Homo sapiens: one gene and its partners. The protein of the gene in region 1 interacts with the protein of each later gene in a biochemical or structural test. Each region holds a gene or a part of one and is shown on either strand. Other genes may lie near its edges.

The links.
Region 2: the proteins of GRB10 (region 1) and RAF1 form a complex in vitro, tested with the Homo sapiens proteins (one study listed by BioGRID).
Region 3: the proteins of GRB10 (region 1) and ABL1 form a complex in vitro, tested with the Homo sapiens proteins (one study listed by BioGRID).
Region 4: of the proteins of GRB10 (region 1) and FYN, one has a biochemical effect on the other in vitro, tested with the Homo sapiens proteins (one study listed by BioGRID).
Region 5: the proteins of GRB10 (region 1) and CNOT9 form a complex in vitro, tested with the Homo sapiens proteins (one study listed by BioGRID).

Annotation. Positions count from the first base shown.
Region 1 is NC_000007.14:50,671,395-50,674,915, forward strand, and holds part of GRB10 (growth factor receptor-bound protein 10), read right to left. Parts: intron 3,265-3,521; coding exon 3,042-3,264; intron 1-3,041.
Region 2 is NC_000003.12:12,608,597-12,612,117, reverse strand, and holds part of RAF1 (RAF proto-oncogene serine/threonine-protein kinase), read left to right. Parts: intron 1-55; coding exon 56-168; intron 169-2,782; coding exon 2,783-2,885; intron 2,886-3,194; coding exon 3,195-3,352; intron 3,353-3,521. UniProt on the Homo sapiens protein: Serine/threonine-protein kinase that acts as a regulatory link between the membrane-associated Ras GTPases and the MAPK/ERK cascade, and this critical regulatory link functions as a switch determining cell fate decisions including proliferation, differentiation, apoptosis, survival and oncogenic transformation.
Region 3 is NC_000009.12:130,838,253-130,841,773, forward strand, and holds part of ABL1 (tyrosine-protein kinase ABL1), read left to right. Parts: intron 1-3,521. UniProt on the Homo sapiens protein: Non-receptor tyrosine-protein kinase that plays a role in many key processes linked to cell growth and survival such as cytoskeleton remodeling in response to extracellular stimuli, cell motility and adhesion, receptor endocytosis, autophagy, DNA damage response and apoptosis.
Region 4 is NC_000006.12:111,660,432-111,663,952, reverse strand, and holds part of FYN (tyrosine-protein kinase Fyn), read left to right. Parts: intron 1-2,005; coding exon 2,006-2,214; 3' UTR 2,215-3,521. UniProt on the Homo sapiens protein: Non-receptor tyrosine-protein kinase that plays a role in many biological processes including regulation of cell growth and survival, cell adhesion, integrin-mediated signaling, cytoskeletal remodeling, cell motility, immune response and axon guidance.
Region 5 is NC_000002.12:218,592,818-218,595,209, forward strand, and holds part of CNOT9 (CCR4-NOT transcription complex subunit 9), read left to right. Parts: intron 1-710; coding exon of another isoform or gene 711-756; exon of another isoform or gene 757-1,030; intron 1,031-1,290; coding exon 1,291-1,459; 3' UTR 1,460-2,392. UniProt on the Homo sapiens protein: Component of the CCR4-NOT complex which is one of the major cellular mRNA deadenylases and is linked to various cellular processes including bulk mRNA degradation, miRNA-mediated repression, translational repression during translational initiation and general transcription regulation.

The DNA of each region.
Region 1 (3,521 bases):
TTTTTCTCTTTTACCAACTTTCCCTATTTTTTAAAGGAAGATCCAGCTAACTATCCCACGTAGACCAGCAAATGATGCATGGATTTAAAATTACGAGAACTCACATGGCATGAAGGGAATCAGTGCTGCGAAATACAGGAAAGCCGTTCCTATAATGGTTTGATGACATGCCATAAAGTTTATTTTTACTGTGAACAAATCCCACTCTTCCCATAACAGCTTCAGCCTTGGCAAGGCGTCCAACTGAAACGTCTGGCCATTGTCATACAGGAGGAGATGGATAAAACGGGTGGCCAGTGCCACTTTCCCATCCACGGCTTCTAGCCAGTGACTTCACCCCAAAAAGATAATCTGACGTTTTAGTGTCCACAAAAGCTTCTCTATTTATTGGGTTGTTTTGAGCATTTTAAAAAGTCCTGTGTTGACTTTAAAGCGGCTCAGAGACATCGCCTAAGGCAAGACTAAGGGATATCACACAAAGACAAAAAATCCCCACCAAAGAGGCTCACAATAGAAGGGACAGTGACTATGGAGAGGGGTGCTGAGATTTAGGGATGTCAGGGATGGTGGCAGGAACTGCAGAGCTGAGGGGCGAGGTCCTTCTTCTCTGTGCCTTGGCTCACTTGTGTTTGTCTAGAACACATGCGTGGCCCTTGCACTCTCAAAAGCCTGGGTTCCTTCTCTGTACAGAATCGGCTCACCCATCGGCTTTCCTATGTGCAAAGCCTTCTTGCCCTTCCCAAGTGTCTCCTCTGCCCATACCCTGCCTGCCCCCCAGCTCCCTTCGGGTTGCATGGCAGCCCCCGGTAAGTTCCTCTGCAGCGTGGACCATGCTCCGTGACCTCTGGTACCCAGCAGCCTGCTCCATGGCCACTTCCCACCTGATGTGGTGAGCCCAGTTACCGCCCCGCTGTGCCACGGTTTCCTCAGCTGGGAAGCGAGGGTAACCCACACTGCCTCCCTCCGAGGGCACTGATAACAAGGAGGAGCTCATCAGCATCTGCACACAGTAAGCACTCAGCAAATGGCCTCACTTCACAAAATAATCTTTGGTGATTCCAGATTGATCTCCACATTTTTTTTTAATCCACCTGAAAGTAAGAAACAAAACTACTTATCTGAGAGGACACCAGAGAGAAGACATTGGGCCCAAGGAACAGCACCTGTGACCCTGTAGGGAGAGGGCTTTGCTGTCCCACAGAGCAAGCCTGCCCCTCCATCCCAGGGACTTAGCGCAGGTAGTCCCGGGGCACATATGGGCGAGTTCAGCCAGAACTCGAGGTTCAAGGGTCCTGGGCAACTACTCCAGCAGGGAGGCAGGCCTTCTGGCTTTCCAGCCCACCCTCGGGCACCTTCGCCATGCAACTGCACCTCCATATTCCCAGGCACTCCCCAAGGCTACTGTGATGCTCCCAAGAGATGCTCCCAAGAGAAAAACAGCTCTCCCACCAGACTTAACTCCTCAGGAGCTAAGTACAAGGGGTCACGCTTCAAAGAGCAAAGTTGAACAAACCCTGGGACAGGCATCATTCAGCATCAATGAATATGACAAAAAGTGAGAAGTCGGAGGGGAAGCCGGGGTGGGAAGCTGGGGAGGCAGCTGACCACGGGCGCCAGGGCCGCTGCACCCTCTCCCCTCCGTAAGAAACAGCTGCCACCTGGGGCAAGGTGATTATCTGGGCTGCGGAAGACCCAAGATGTCAGACCACAAAGAAAACTCTCAGAAGTTTCTAGAAGCAAGAAGAGCCCAGGAAATGAACAGAGCTCCCCGGAAGATGGGGTGCTGAGACAGAAGGCACCAGAACCCCATCCTGACAGAGGCCAGTGAGGGCAAGGGGCAGTCCCAGCAGAGATGGCTGTACATCCTCCGCAAAGGCCCAGAGAGGCACGCAGGGTCCCACGGAGCCCCACGCCATCCCGACTGCGACAGGGCAGACAGGCGGATCCTTGAGGGCTGCCCCTGGCTCTCAGCTTGATTCTACAAAGATCTTCATTCAGAATGTCTAAGGTACTCTCAGCACCTTCACCTTCGACATGACCATTCTCTAGACACCCTCCTCCCAGGCACTCGAGACAAAATCCAAGTCACCCTCCACACACTCTCTGTCTCCTCACAGCCCTGGCAAAATTCAAGTGCTGGCAAAACGCAGCTGCTCCTCCTCAGCAACGTGCTCAAATCCCCCCTCCTTCTTCATCCTCAGGCAGCGCACAATCATCTCCCATCCGGGGGCTCCTGAGACCACTTCCAAACCGGCCATGCTCTGCCAACCCTGCTGCCCTCTACCACTGCCCCCACGACCCCTGGCAACCAGAATGCTGGTGTCAAAACCCAAACCCAGCCCCTTCACACGCCTGTCCAGAACTCTTTCTCACGTGGCTCCTGAAAAAGGCACACAAAGTGCTTCAGCACCGGCCCCCATCTGCATCATCTCTTCTGCTCACAAAACCTCTGCCTCCATCTATCTGAGCTCCTATCACCCTTTGACATCCGTTCAGAAATCCTACCTCCCAGGAACCTCCCTCAACGTCCCCAGCACGTTCCTCCCTCCAGCCTCCCTGTTTCCACAGAGATGTGCCTACCCCTGAATTAGCAGAGGAATGTGGCAAAATGCAACTCTGAGGGAGGTCTGGGGTTGCACGACAAGCTCCAGGGGGTGCTGTAGCTGCTAGCCTCCCGTCCCTACTCTGGGTAGTGAGGACTTGGGGCATGCAATCAGCTCCATGGCTGTTCTTCCAATCTTTCCAGAGATTTTTCCTCTGGTGGTTTTCCTGCATATCCCTCTACCTAGCACAGTGCCTTGCACATAGCAGGCACTCAATAAAAGGTACTACTGGAATTGAACTGGCTACAAAGTTCAACCCAAGGGCGGCACACTGCACACACTCAGTGTATCCGTTATCCCATCAAAGCAATGTATCTGCCTCTTGACTTTGCAAGACCAACACTATTCCCCCCAACACCATTTAACTCACAGAGAGCAGTGTCCCTGCCGACAGCTCTCATCCTTGGAGAAGGCTCTGCCCATAAGGCCTGGACCTACCTGACAGCGAGGATGTGCACAGGCTGGGAGCGCTGCACCCTCTGCCTCGGGGACACCTGTGGCTGGATGGACCGAGGAGGGCCTGAAGCCCGAGGCTGGCTGCGGGCATGCTGGCCATTCTGCAGGAGGGGCACCGTGTCTGACTGCATGCTGCAGGCCGAGTACAGGCTCTCCAGGGATGCATTCATATCGTTCACCAGGGCTTCCAGGTCCACATCATCCTCTGCACAGAAAAAGGCAAGAGCAAAAAAGAAACTTTAACAATGGAGAGCAATCAAACCCAAATGTACATCTTGGTGATCAGGTTCCAAACCTCAATCCTATTTTTCAAATATTATGGAAGGGGTAGAGGGGAAACACCAAGACAAGTATGACTGTATGGAAGCATGCATATTACATGTATTCATCATGACTGACATTCCAGAGACAATTCAATCATTAGAGCTGGGCTGCATTTCTACCTGTCTCCAGGGAGAAGCC
Region 2 (3,521 bases), on another chromosome or scaffold:
TTTCCAAGGGGTGCTGCAGCCTGTGTTGGTCCTAAAGGTGGTCCTTTGTTTGTAGGTCAATGTGCGAAATGGAATGAGCTTGCATGACTGCCTTATGAAAGCACTCAAGGTGAGGGGCCTGCAACCAGAGTGCTGTGCAGTGTTCAGACTTCTCCACGAACACAAAGGGTAAGAGCTCAAAAGTCAATTGACTTCTTCAGACTAGTAAGGATCTTCTAGCTTCAAATAGCTATGTTTGTATTAAATTGTACTAGCTTCCTATAGAATATTGTATATTTCTATACCTTTCTTTATAAAGAGATAATTCAGAAAAATAGGTATTAAGAAATTGAAATTATTGCTTGGACATTCTCTTGAAAAGTTAAATACACGTTAAGCTGGGCCTGATGACCAATACCTGTAATTTTTTTTTCTTTTTGAGGTGGAGTCTTGCTCTGTCGCCCAGGCTGGAGTGCAGTGGCGCGATCTCGGCTCACCGCAAGCTCCGCCTCCCGGGTTCACGCCATTTTCCTGCCTCAGCCTCCGGAGTAGCTGGGACTACAGGCGCCCACCACCGCGCCCGGCTAATTTTTTGTATTTTTAGTAGAGACGGGGTTTCACCGTGTTAGCCAGGATGGTAATACCCGTAATTTTAACACTGGGAAACTGAGGCAAGAGGGTTGCTTGAGGCCAAGAGTTCAAGACCAGCCTGGGCACATAGCGAAGGCCCATCTCTACAAAAGATTTTTAAAAATTAGCCAGGCATGGTGGTGCGGCCCTGTAGTCCTAGCTGTTCGAAAGGCTGACGTGAGAATATTGCATGACCCCAGGGGCTTGAGGCTGCAGTGAGTCATGATTGTGCTACTGGACTCCAGCCTGGGCTGGAGCAAGATCCTGTCTATTAAAAAAAGCCAAAAAACAAAAAAACAAAAACAAACACATGTTAGGTATTGATAATGTTTCCATGGATGGAAACAGTGATGTTAGATGCTGTGTTTTTTTGAGACAAAGATTTTTCTTTGTGTTTACTCTAATGCATTATATAGACTGGGCACTCAGAAAGTGCATTATTTTATATAAAGAATGCTATCCTCGGGAGATTGACTTTTCTCATTCACTAATTTTTTTTTTTATTCAGTTAAATGTGTACTAATCCCTGCTGTTTGATAGATTGTTTAAAGATGCAGAAGCATTTCTGCTTCAGGGAAGATTCATGGTTTATCCTATTCCTAATGGTGGTGGCAAGATAGAGGCATCCCCTCAAAGGCTAGGAGTAATACCTCAAAGCAGCAGAGCTGTCCATAATTATCCATTATCCATTATTCCCTCCACCCCGAAAATATAGGGAAACCTTTAAAGGGTTCTTTTTTACCCTCTTCTTGGAAAGCGTCACTTATGTTATTCATCGTTAGCTTACATTTTTTCATGTTTCAAAGAGTTCTGCAGTTTGGGAGAATAGCCCAGGGAATGAATCTACTCGAAGGGGTGAGTGTAATTCTCAATTTAGGAGGCGTTTGTTGAAGTGCAAATCTTTGAAGCAGACGTTAACTTTTGCTGAAGGTAGCCCAGGTTGGGTCCCTAAGCCAATCCATAGTGTTCCTTAAGGACTAGAGAGATTCTGAGACAGGGAGGGCTTGGTCTACTCTCATCCAAGGCTGCACTGGTTTGGAGCTACTCTGGAGTCTCTAGGACAGACAGCAGATTGTCACTAGGATCAGTCTGCAGATTGATGAGAAAATAAGGCTTGTCCTCCTTCTCTTCATAAGGGCAAAATAGTCCTTTGGAGTTATAGGAAGTTTTCCAGGTGCTGTATAGGTAATTATATTAAGGAATGTATTGTTTACTGTTGGATAGTGAGAAAAATGGCTTGACTAGGCTTCTGGTAGATAATGGAGAGGCTTGAATGGTGCTATACATGTTATTTTCTCTTTACCTGAGAATATTCTTCCTTTGGAAAATGGGCCAGATTAACTGGATAAAACATAAGAAAGGAATTGGGCATTACTTTTTACTTATGTATCTATTTTTTGTCTTATTTATACTGTAGGCACAGAAAGTGTGGTTTCAGAGTAGATTTTAAGACAGTTAAGTTTCTCATTGACTTATAGACCCTACAACTACAGATTTGAGTCTGTTATTAATTAATAGAAAAGTACATTTTTCATTTGTGGTTCCTTTCTATTTATCTAGATTGAAATAGGCTACTGAAGACTAAATTTTGTACTGCAGCAATATTTATAATCCATTTTACAGGATTTGGGGATTTTTGTAAGATTTTAGTGTTACAAATTCCAATTTAACGTATATTGACTTTATTGTGAGATTTTATATATCATTGTTTAAAGAAAACTTTATTCTGGCCAGACATGGTGGTTCACACCTGTAATCCCAGCACTTTGGGAGGCTGAGGCAGGAGGACCGCTTGAGGCCAGGGATTCAAGACCAGCCTGGGCAACACAGCAAGACTCTCTCTCTACCAAAAAACATTTTTTTAAGTAAATAAAGAGAAAACTTTATTCTGAGAACATGGGCTTTGGAGTTCAACAGACCTAGATTCCAACATAGGCCCTTAAACTTGCTGTGTGGCCTTGAGCAAATTACCTTCTTAGAGTCCCAGTTTTCTTATTTTTCAGATAGAAATAATACCTACTTCATAGGTTTGTTGTATGAATTAAATAAATTATTGTTGTATGGATTAAATAAAGTTGTGTTTATATGGCATGTGATAAATGGTAGCTGTTGTTATTTCTATTGAACTTTGATCTTGTTTAAACATTTCATGTTTTTTTTAAATCCTTTCTAGTAAAAAAGCACGCTTAGATTGGAATACTGATGCTGCGTCTTTGATTGGAGAAGAACTTCAAGTAGATTTCCTGGATCATGTTCCCCTCACAACACACAACTTTGTAAGTTGCAGATCTCTTCTCTTTCTGGCATGTTGAGGGCTTTGCCAGGCATAACAGAGATTTCTCAGGTAATATGCGTATGTATATATATATATAGTTGGATTGTTTAAAGTTCTTTATGCTGTTGTTTACAGTAAGGCAATTTAGATTTCATTAGTCAGAGATATACTCTAATTTGTGATTATGAATTCTGTACATGCTGGAAGTATGATTCATTTTGTAAAAACTTTTTTGGAGGCCAAGAAATGAAGTTGTCTTTTGTCATCTTTTATTTATTCAGCATAATTTACACCTGTGTTCTTGTTGTAGGCTCGGAAGACGTTCCTGAAGCTTGCCTTCTGTGACATCTGTCAGAAATTCCTGCTCAATGGATTTCGATGTCAGACTTGTGGCTACAAATTTCATGAGCACTGTAGCACCAAAGTACCTACTATGTGTGTGGACTGGAGTAACATCAGACAACTCTTGTAAGGCATTGTTCTTTTATCCAAGGAAGATAGGGATGAGGAGTATACATACTTTAAAGGGTATTTGTTGTAGATTTTGACTGACAGGTCTGGATTCTAGACTCATTTAATGAATTGTGATCCAGAAACTACTTTAGAAACAGTGATAATTCTGAAACTAGCTAGGTTT
Region 3 (3,521 bases), on another chromosome or scaffold:
AGCCACTGGATGCTCTACTGATGTCTCTTTTGGAATTCACTGTGATTTTCAAAATGGTATCTCCAGAAACTCCTCCAATTAATCCCTGAAATGTAAGGGTAGTCTCTTTTTCTTTTCTAGAAACCTGATCCTGGCAAAATGATTAGCTTTAACAGTAGGATTAATTTTTTTTAAATGTATATAAAAATACTTGTATGTAAGAAATCCTAAAAGGGTATTTAGTGAAAAGTAATTCCCTCTCCTATTCATTTTCCCCACCTAGAGGCAATCACCCTGGAGTTTTATGTGTGTCCTTCTAGAAATACTGTGTGCACATATAAGCATTTATTATAACATGTGAATTTTGCTCTCCAGCTTTTTGTGAATATGCATGTTTATAGCAGTATCTATTCACCAGGACCGCATTTAGCTTTGCAATATTCGGTCTACTTTGAACACTGAATTTTCTGATTATTTCTTTCCCCTGGAGACGTCAAAGAAAACATGAACACTAGCCTTTTGAATTCAGGGTTTTCTTTTCATTTTATTTTCATTTGTTCATGTGTTTGTATTTACATACATTGTGCCTGAATATTGTACATGTATGTGACAGTTGTGTACTGTAGAATCAAAAACTAATGTCTGTGAACTGAACTCTTCTTGAACTTTTTGTTGTTGTTGTTATTGTTGCTTTTGGAGATAGGGTCTTGCTCTGTCACCCAGGCTGGACTGCAGTGGCACAATCACAGCTCACTGCAGCCTTGAGCTCCTGGTCTCAAGCAACCCTCCCACCTCAGCCTCCCAAGTAGCTGGGGCTGCAGGCATATGCTACCTGACTAATTAAAATTTTTTTTTTTTTTTTGTAGAGACAGGGTCTCACTATTTTTACTAGTTTGCCCGGGCCAAGCCAGTGTTGAACTACTGGCCTCAAGTGATCCTCCCACCTTGGCCTCCCCAAAGTGCATCCCTACAGGCATGAGCCACTGCACTCAGCCTGAACTTTCGAAATTTATTTTAAGGGCCCACTTTTAAATGCTTCTTTTCAGCAGCTAACTTTCCAGCGGATGCTTCATGTGGTGCCAGCCATACAGATACGCTTTTAGAACTTGAGCTTTGGAGAAGCTTATGCTTGCTTTCTGCTCTCTCCTGAGGTCATCAGATACTTCCCTTGTTCAGTAACAAAGAAAGTGAGACTCTTTCTGTTACCTAATAAAAGGCCAGTCTGTCCATTTCATTTTGGGTGCTATTAACATTGTTGACCATTTACAATGTCACAGGCCCTGGCACTGAGCACATCATGTGCAGCCTCACTTAATTTTCACACCAGTGCCCTGAGGTTTCTAGAAAAGAGGAAGGGCCCCAGTTTAGGTGGCAGTACTTTTCAATTTGGAGGCAGGAGATCCCAGTTTTCCTCTGACCTCTCTGAGCTTCCGTGTTTTTACCTCTAAGACAGAGAGACCAATCTCTGTTCAGCCACCTTAGAGGATTGTTTTGAGGGTCTATAAGATGATTGAGGGAAAGCTCTGAAACTGGTAAGAGTTAAATGTATGTTTGTGTTATGTTGATACGAGATTCCTCTGAGATGCTCTTTAGTCCAGGCAGGTTTATGGCTCACACAGCGTTCCTAGGGTCTCATTCTTCTGCACAGGCAGGCAGCTCCCGAGCCAGCCAGTCTGGACCCAAATGCCACCTGTGCTCTTGGCTGGTCTTGCGCATTCACCGAGGCTCACTGTACCTTGGTGTTCCCATTTCTAAAATAAGGCCTGTAGTAATCCCTACCTCACTGAGTTGTTGAGAGACTTCATGTAAATTGTTTAGCAGGGAGCCTGGCACAGAACAAGAGCCTAGCAGAAAAGTAAGCTGTTGTTACTTTAAGCAAATATTTAGCAGCCTAAAATGGTGGCTTTACCAGTTTCTGTAATGGTTGAAGTGATGACAGAATTCAGCCAATCCCACCCATAGTTTTTCTTGCTAATAAAGCAGTTTGTTTCTAAGTGTGTTTTGATGCGTATAATTAATACTTCCTGTCCTTGATTTTTGGCTGAAAAATGTCTTCTCTTCCTCGCACCCTCTGTTATTCCCGTAGTGAATATTTTCATTGTGGAAGAGAAATTCCCATTGGCTCATGGTTGGCATTTTATTTCTCCTGTCCAGAGACAATATTTCCACAGCCTCAAACGTGAAAACTGAAAATCTGGTGCCACTTACCACCTTGTAAAATCAAGTCATTGTAATTGTGCCAGTATAATCATTGATCTGAAATAAAAGCAGAAAATAAATCAATGGGTAGCTTTCTTAAATACATAAGAACTAAAGATCAAATGGGATATTGGAAGACTTTAACTTTTCCTCCATAATGGTGGATCTTAATTAAACACACAGAAGAACAATTTATAAAATAAATTCATAGGTTTGTTTGTTCTTTTTTAGTGTCAATTTTTAAAACTATCTCTTTTTTAATTAAAAAAAATAGAGATGGGTCTCACTATGTCGCCCAGGCTGGTCTCAAACTCCTGGGCTCAAGCAATCCTCCCACCTCAGCCTCCCAAAGTGCTGGGATTACAGGCATGAGCCACTGCACCCAGCCTAAAACTGTCTCAAAAGTAGACAGCATAATGAACTCCCATGTACTTATGATGTGGCTTTAACAATTATCAGCTTATAGTCAGTCTTGTTTTCTTACATAATAAAGTTACAGTTTCAAAGCCATTAGGAAGAATAGCTTGCTAATTATAATTACTTAGTTTTGATAGTGTAACTTTGTCCTCAGATGGGTAGAATCGTTACTCTGGAACAGGGGTGTCCAATCTTGGCTTCCCTGGGCCACATTGGGAGAAAAATTGTCTTGGGCCACACGTAAAACATACTAACGATAGCTGATGAGCTAAACCAACAAAACAAATCCCACAAAAATCTCATTTCTTTTTTTTTTTGAGACAAGAGTCTCACTCTGTCGCCCAGACTGGAGTGCAGTTGCACGATCTCAGCTCACTGCAAGCTCCGCCTCCTGGGTTCACGCCATTCTCCTGCCTCAGCCTCCCTAGTAGAGGGTACTACAGGCGCCCGGGGGTTTCACCATGTTAGCCAGGATGGTCTCCATCTCCTGACCTCGTGATCCGCCCACCTCGGCCTCCCAAAGCCCTGGGATTACAGGCGTGAGCCACTGCACCGGGCCAAAAATCTTATAATGTTTTTAAGAAAGTTTGCAAATTTGTTAGGCCACATTCAAAGCCGTCCTGGGCCATATGCAGCCCGTGGGCCATGGGTTGAACAAGCTTGCTCTAGAAATTGGTTTTCAGGCCGGGCGCGGTGGCTGACGCCTGTAATCCCAGCACTTTGGGAGGCCGAGGCAGGTGGTCACCTGAGGTCAGGAGTTCGAGACCAGCCTGGCCAACATGCTGAAACCCTGTCTCTACTAAAAATATAAAAAATTAGCCAGGCGTAGTGGGGAGTGCCTGTAATCCCAGCTACTCAGGAGGCTAAGGCAGGAGAATTACTTGAACCTGGGAGGCAGAGGTTGCAGTGAGCCGCGATCTCACCAT
Region 4 (3,521 bases), on another chromosome or scaffold:
GTGGAATTGTGGAGAAGGAAATGCTGGCCTCTGTCCGCGTTTATCTAGAGCCGGAGGAGGCTGCCTTTCATTCCCGAGCATGCTCCAGTTCCTCCCTTGCTTCCAGCTCCCCGCCCCCATCCCCCATTTTCAGCCATTGGAGGAGGATGTAGGCTAATTAGCCACAGCGCTGCCTCTCACTCCTCCCATGCAACTGAGGAAGTCGCTGGTAAAGGCATGCATGGCACAGAGGCAGGGACCCTGACTCCTTCACCAAACCTCTCTCCCTAAAATAAGGGGTCGCCCTGACACGTGAGTGAGGTTATTTTACAATAATTGCATTGAAGGCCTACTTCAGTACAGCAGAAACAATATGTGAATTTTTATTACCTCAAGAAATGATAATGGCAGAGAATAAGAAAGCATCCTGAAAAGGTCTGGAGAGACATGTGACTGACAGGCTGTGGTTGACAGCCAGGAGGAGCCAGGATACACTCAGCTCCACAAGTAACAACACAACCAAGAGGACTGGCAACAGACCCCGAAGTCCGAGTGTTCCCTCTGCAGGGGGACAGGCTGTGCTCTGGCCCAGCGCCTCTGGCTGTGCTGACAAGTTTCTAGCTAACGGGTCGCCACCTCCCCTAGAAGTAAAGGAAGCTCCATGCATATGGTGTGTGCTCCTGCTGGCTGTAGCCCTGGGAAATAGGGGAAGAAATCTTGGTTTCTATATGGCTTGACATCGGGTTCTTGCTCCTGCAAATTAACCGGGTCAGATACTGGGGAGGATTCCAGATGACAGCCTCACCGGCCAGGAAGCAACCAAAGCACAGCACAGCTTGACGGGGAGCTGGCAGAAGGTGATACAATGAAAAAGGGAAGCAAAACTAGAGAATAGTGGCTGGCAGTAGTTGGGAGGAGGTCAGGACACTGGCCACCCCCTAAGCATGGTAGTTCCTGTAGTGTTAAGGCAGCCAGTGTGCAGGAGGCCGCACTCTCTGAGGAGTTAGCGATCTGTCTTCTGTTAGTGCTATGCAGCCCAGTGTTTCAACAGCTTCCCAAGAGTCAGAAAAACCTCAAATGATGGATGGCCTGGCTGAAGTCATCAGTAGAGATAGGCCCCGGACATGGTCTATCTCCCCATCAAATTCACCAAACCTCAGGGCACTGTGGGGTTGCAGGGCCAGACAGTGCCCAGCCACGCTGGCATGATGGCAGATCTCCAACAGTGGGGAACTAAGAGTTTGCCCAGGCATGAAGAAAACGAATTTATGAAGTTCATAAATGGAGTTTATAAATGCTATAAACAAGGGGCAGCATGCTTTCATTCTGTGTGGATTTTTTTGTCTGCTTTATTCATATATTGTTGTCAGTTTAATTGAAGTATAATCTACACACAATAAAATTCAACAATTTTAAGGATGCAGTTTATTGAGTTTTGACAAACATAAACAGTCACACCACCCCATACATAATATAGAACAGGGGTTGGCAGGTCTGGCTCCCAACCTGTGTTTGTTTTGTACGTTTTTAAAGGGTTGTTAAAAAGAAGAAGACAGGGATCATATGTGACCCGCAAAGCCAAAAATATTTACTGTCTGGCCTTTTACAGGAAAAGTTTGTTGACCCGTTGACCCTGACAGAACATTCCCATCCCACTTGGAGTTCCCTCTGGCCCCTTGGCAGGGATTCCTCCCCTCCCCCAGGCAGCCACTGATCTGCTTTCTATAGATGTAGTTGCGCCTTTTCTAGAATTTCGCATGAATGAAATCATACCGTATGTTGCCTGTTGTGTCTGGCTTCCTTCACTTATCATGTTTTGAGAGTCATTCTGAATTTTTCATGTCTCAGTTCTGCACTCCTTCTTTACTCCTGAGTAGCATGGCAGGGTTTGACTCCTGGGGGGATGGGAGTACTCCGCATGTTTTAGCCACATGCAGACGCAAAGAAGAAGAAAGGGGATCTGCAAGTGCGGCGGTCAGGGCCTGGATCCCCGGGGTGCCCACTCTCACTGCGCTTGTCTTTGCAGGCATGAACAACCGGGAGGTGCTGGAGCAGGTGGAGCGAGGCTACAGGATGCCCTGCCCGCAGGACTGCCCCATCTCTCTGCATGAGCTCATGATCCACTGCTGGAAAAAGGACCCTGAAGAACGCCCCACTTTTGAGTACTTGCAGAGCTTCCTGGAAGACTACTTTACCGCGACAGAGCCCCAGTACCAACCTGGTGAAAACCTGTAAGGCCCGGGTCTGCGGAGAGAGGCCTTGTCCCAGAGGCTGCCCCACCCCTCCCCATTAGCTTTCAATTCCGTAGCCAGCTGCTCCCCAGCAGCGGAACCGCCCAGGATCAGATTGCATGTGACTCTGAAGCTGACGAACTTCCATGGCCCTCATTAATGACACTTGTCCCCAAATCCGAACCTCCTCTGTGAAGCATTCGAGACAGAACCTTGTTATTTCTCAGACTTTGGAAAATGCATTGTATCGATGTTATGTAAAAGGCCAAACCTCTGTTCAGTGTAAATAGTTACTCCAGTGCCAACAATCCTAGTGCTTTCCTTTTTTAAAAATGCAAATCCTATGTGATTTTAACTCTGTCTTCACCTGATTCAACTAAAAAAAAAAAAGTATTATTTTCCAAAAGTGGCCTCTTTGTCTAAAACAATAAAATTTTTTTTCATGTTTTAACAAAAACCAATCAGGACAGGTGTTTGTTTTTGTTTTCTTTTTTATAAATATGAATATATATAATATATATGTCCCTGTACATATACAATGTGGGTGCTAATGTGGAGACTGTGGCCGGCCTGAGCCACCAAGCTGCGGGACCCAGAGGGAGGATTTTACTGCAAGTCAGCATCAAAGCACCGGTGTTATTCTGAAAACACCAGTGGCCTCATTTTTGGCTTTTGCAAAGCATGAATTTTTTCATTTGGATTGCACTTTCCTGGTTCATGACTGTACCTGTAGGTGGTTGTTACTTTGACTCTTTTCAGGAACCACCCCCCAAGCTGAATTTACAAGTTCTGTTAGCACTATTTGCTTCAACTTACTGCGATTTGTTCTCAAAACTTAAAAATAAGCAAGCAAATGGCTGATACTACCAAGAGAACTGGAAGATGGATACCACACAAACTTCTTGTATAAAAATATGAATGCTGAAATGTTTCAGACATTTTTAATTTAATAAACCTGTAACCACATTTAAGTGATCTAAAACCCATAGCATTGTAGTCATGGCAACCCGCTAAACTTTCTCATGCAACTAAAATTTCTGGGGGAAATGAGGGTGGGGGTTGTACATTTCCCATTGTAAAATAAGTGTTTTAAATGTCCTGTACTGCTAACGAATGACTTTCTATATGTCCAGGAGTTCTCCAGTGGAATAACTATGCACTACTTTACATTTCATGGGGATGCACAAAAACAAAAAAGTATTACATTTTTAGTTGCTGTTTGTACCAACCTTAAATTACATATGTTTAACAACAACAAATCAAAAATCCTATTTCTATTGAGTTTTTAATACTGACTAGCAACTCTGAAGT
Region 5 (2,392 bases), on another chromosome or scaffold:
GCATTTAGTTTGTCTGAGACAGAACTTAGATTCTTTTAAAAATCTGAAATGCTGAATTTTAGTAGCCATCAGTTTCATCTTCTCACTGTAACTCTCCATCCTACTGTGAAATTCCAGAGAGTCTAGGCGATTCCAAAGGAAACCTTATGATGCATTACTCCTGTTGTTTGAATTTTCTGTTGCTACTCTACGTGGTCAGAGAGAGAAGTATATTTTCAAAGATCTCTTAAAAAGGAACACAGCCCAGAGGGCTCTTGAATTCTATTTCCAATTCTGTCCTTGATTCCTATAAGTTTCTTGAGCTAATTATTTTATCTGCTTATGTTCATAATCTTTCTGCCAGAAATCATACACTGTAGATATAATGCATTTTAGAAATGTTTGACCTTTTGCTTTGTAAATCCATAATTCATGCTGAAAGCAACCTGCTCATATTCTGCTAAACCACGTAATGGAGCAATTTCTGTGTTCCTGGGAAGAGAGCTAGCTTGATTTGATTTAATGTGAACTCAGTCTCCTGCCACTGAGTTTATTCAAGCCCTACCTGTTTGTTGACCATTTTATCCTGTTCTTCAGTGGTTCTTGTTTCACTAAAGTTTAAAAATGTGTTTATTTAAAATTCTACTTGTACAAAGAAAACTAGTCTGAGTGCAAAAACTATAACTTTGTTTAAAATAGCTCTACACATAGTTAACATTTACCTTTTTTAGGTTTTCAGATTTGACTTTCTGCTGGTCATCTTTTCAAAGAAAATGAAACGTTTAAAAGTTCATCTGATAATACTGCTACCATAGTTTTGTTTTCACTGCTCATCTCTTATTAAGGTTTTTAACCATAAAACTGAAGCAATTTCTGTAAAGACACAAATTGATAACTTAGTATAGAATTAAAATTCATTAAGTTATCATAAGTTTGATGATATCCTTGTTAATGTACTGATTTTTGAATTATTTTATTTGCCATAATCCATATATTTCTAACATGAGTATTTTGACAGTATTTAATAAATCAGAAAGCTGTTTGAATGGAAGTAAACTATTGAACCTTTTAATTTTGCTTTTTCATGAAATTCTACATTGGGGCATCATTCAGAAAATATTTGTGGATACAGATTTTGGAGATCTCTAAGCCTATGCCTAATATAGCTTTAGAGAATTTTAATGGCTTCTTAAGGAGCCATAGATTCACAGTATTCTAAATATTTATGTCTAAGAAGGGGGCTCTTCCCTGTCCACAAAATGTGGGTTTATTTGTTGGTCTCCCTGGTTGGTTTGTTTGTTTCTGATGTAGGGCACGTGAAGCACTCAGACAGTGCCTCCCTGACCAGCTGAAAGACACAACCTTCGCCCAGGTGCTAAAAGATGACACCACCACGAAACGCTGGCTTGCACAACTGGTGAAGAACCTGCAAGAGGGCCAGGTCACCGATCCCCGGGGTATCCCCCTGCCCCCTCAGTGATCCTTCCCTGTTCCCTCCCACTACTCCCCCAAGTTGGGGAAAGGAGGGGGAACCTACGAGAAAAACAGCTCAGGTTTTATCACCGACTGGGAATAGACAACCTCAATGCTGAACCGCACTGGAGAAAAGGGGCAAGGTACCCCTGCTGAGGTGTATGGGCTGCCATCTCAGGCTGTCTTGAGGACCTGGGCTCCCTCTGCTACTCCCAGGAAATGGGCTCCTGACACAGCAGTCTGCCACCACAGCCCCAGGAGGGTGTCAACACCAGCAAATGCTGTATTTGCAGCATGTCCAAGATGACCCTTCTCCCCTACCTCTACCTAGCCACTGGCAGGGAGGGGAGACAGTGGTGATAGCAGCAGCACTCTAGGCATGGTGAACGCCTGGGACCAAGCCATGTGGCGTTTTTTATTTTGCCTTTCTGGAAGACTCAAGATATGTCTCTTCATTCTCTCTCAGTATTTGTTTACTTTGGTTTTTTTGTTTTTAATCTCAGAGAGAGGTGTGTTTAGTGGGCACAAGCTGTAATATTCAGCAAAACTTTGTCGACTGGCACTGTTTACAAGTCTGTTAGCTGCATAAGCTCAATAAAAAGTTGGTCTGGGCATTACATCCCCTCTGGCAGGCCAATAGCTGCATCAAGCTGTTGGGAGAAATGGGAGGGCAGGGGAAAGATGTAAAGCCAAAGTACAGCAGGAACCCACCACCTGTTTCCCTTCCTTCTCCCATTCTACTCCCAGTCCGGAATGCCACGAGGACCTTAACCTTGTTTCTGGCTTTAGCTGCTAGTTTTCCCAAATCTCAGTGCTTTCCCTTTTTGAACTTCCCTTCTATTAAACTTAAAACAGATGTCTTAATTAATCAGGCTGTCTTGGAAGGGTATTGTATTGGGAGACAAGGGGCGGTGGTGGACCTCACCTTCAATCCAAGTTT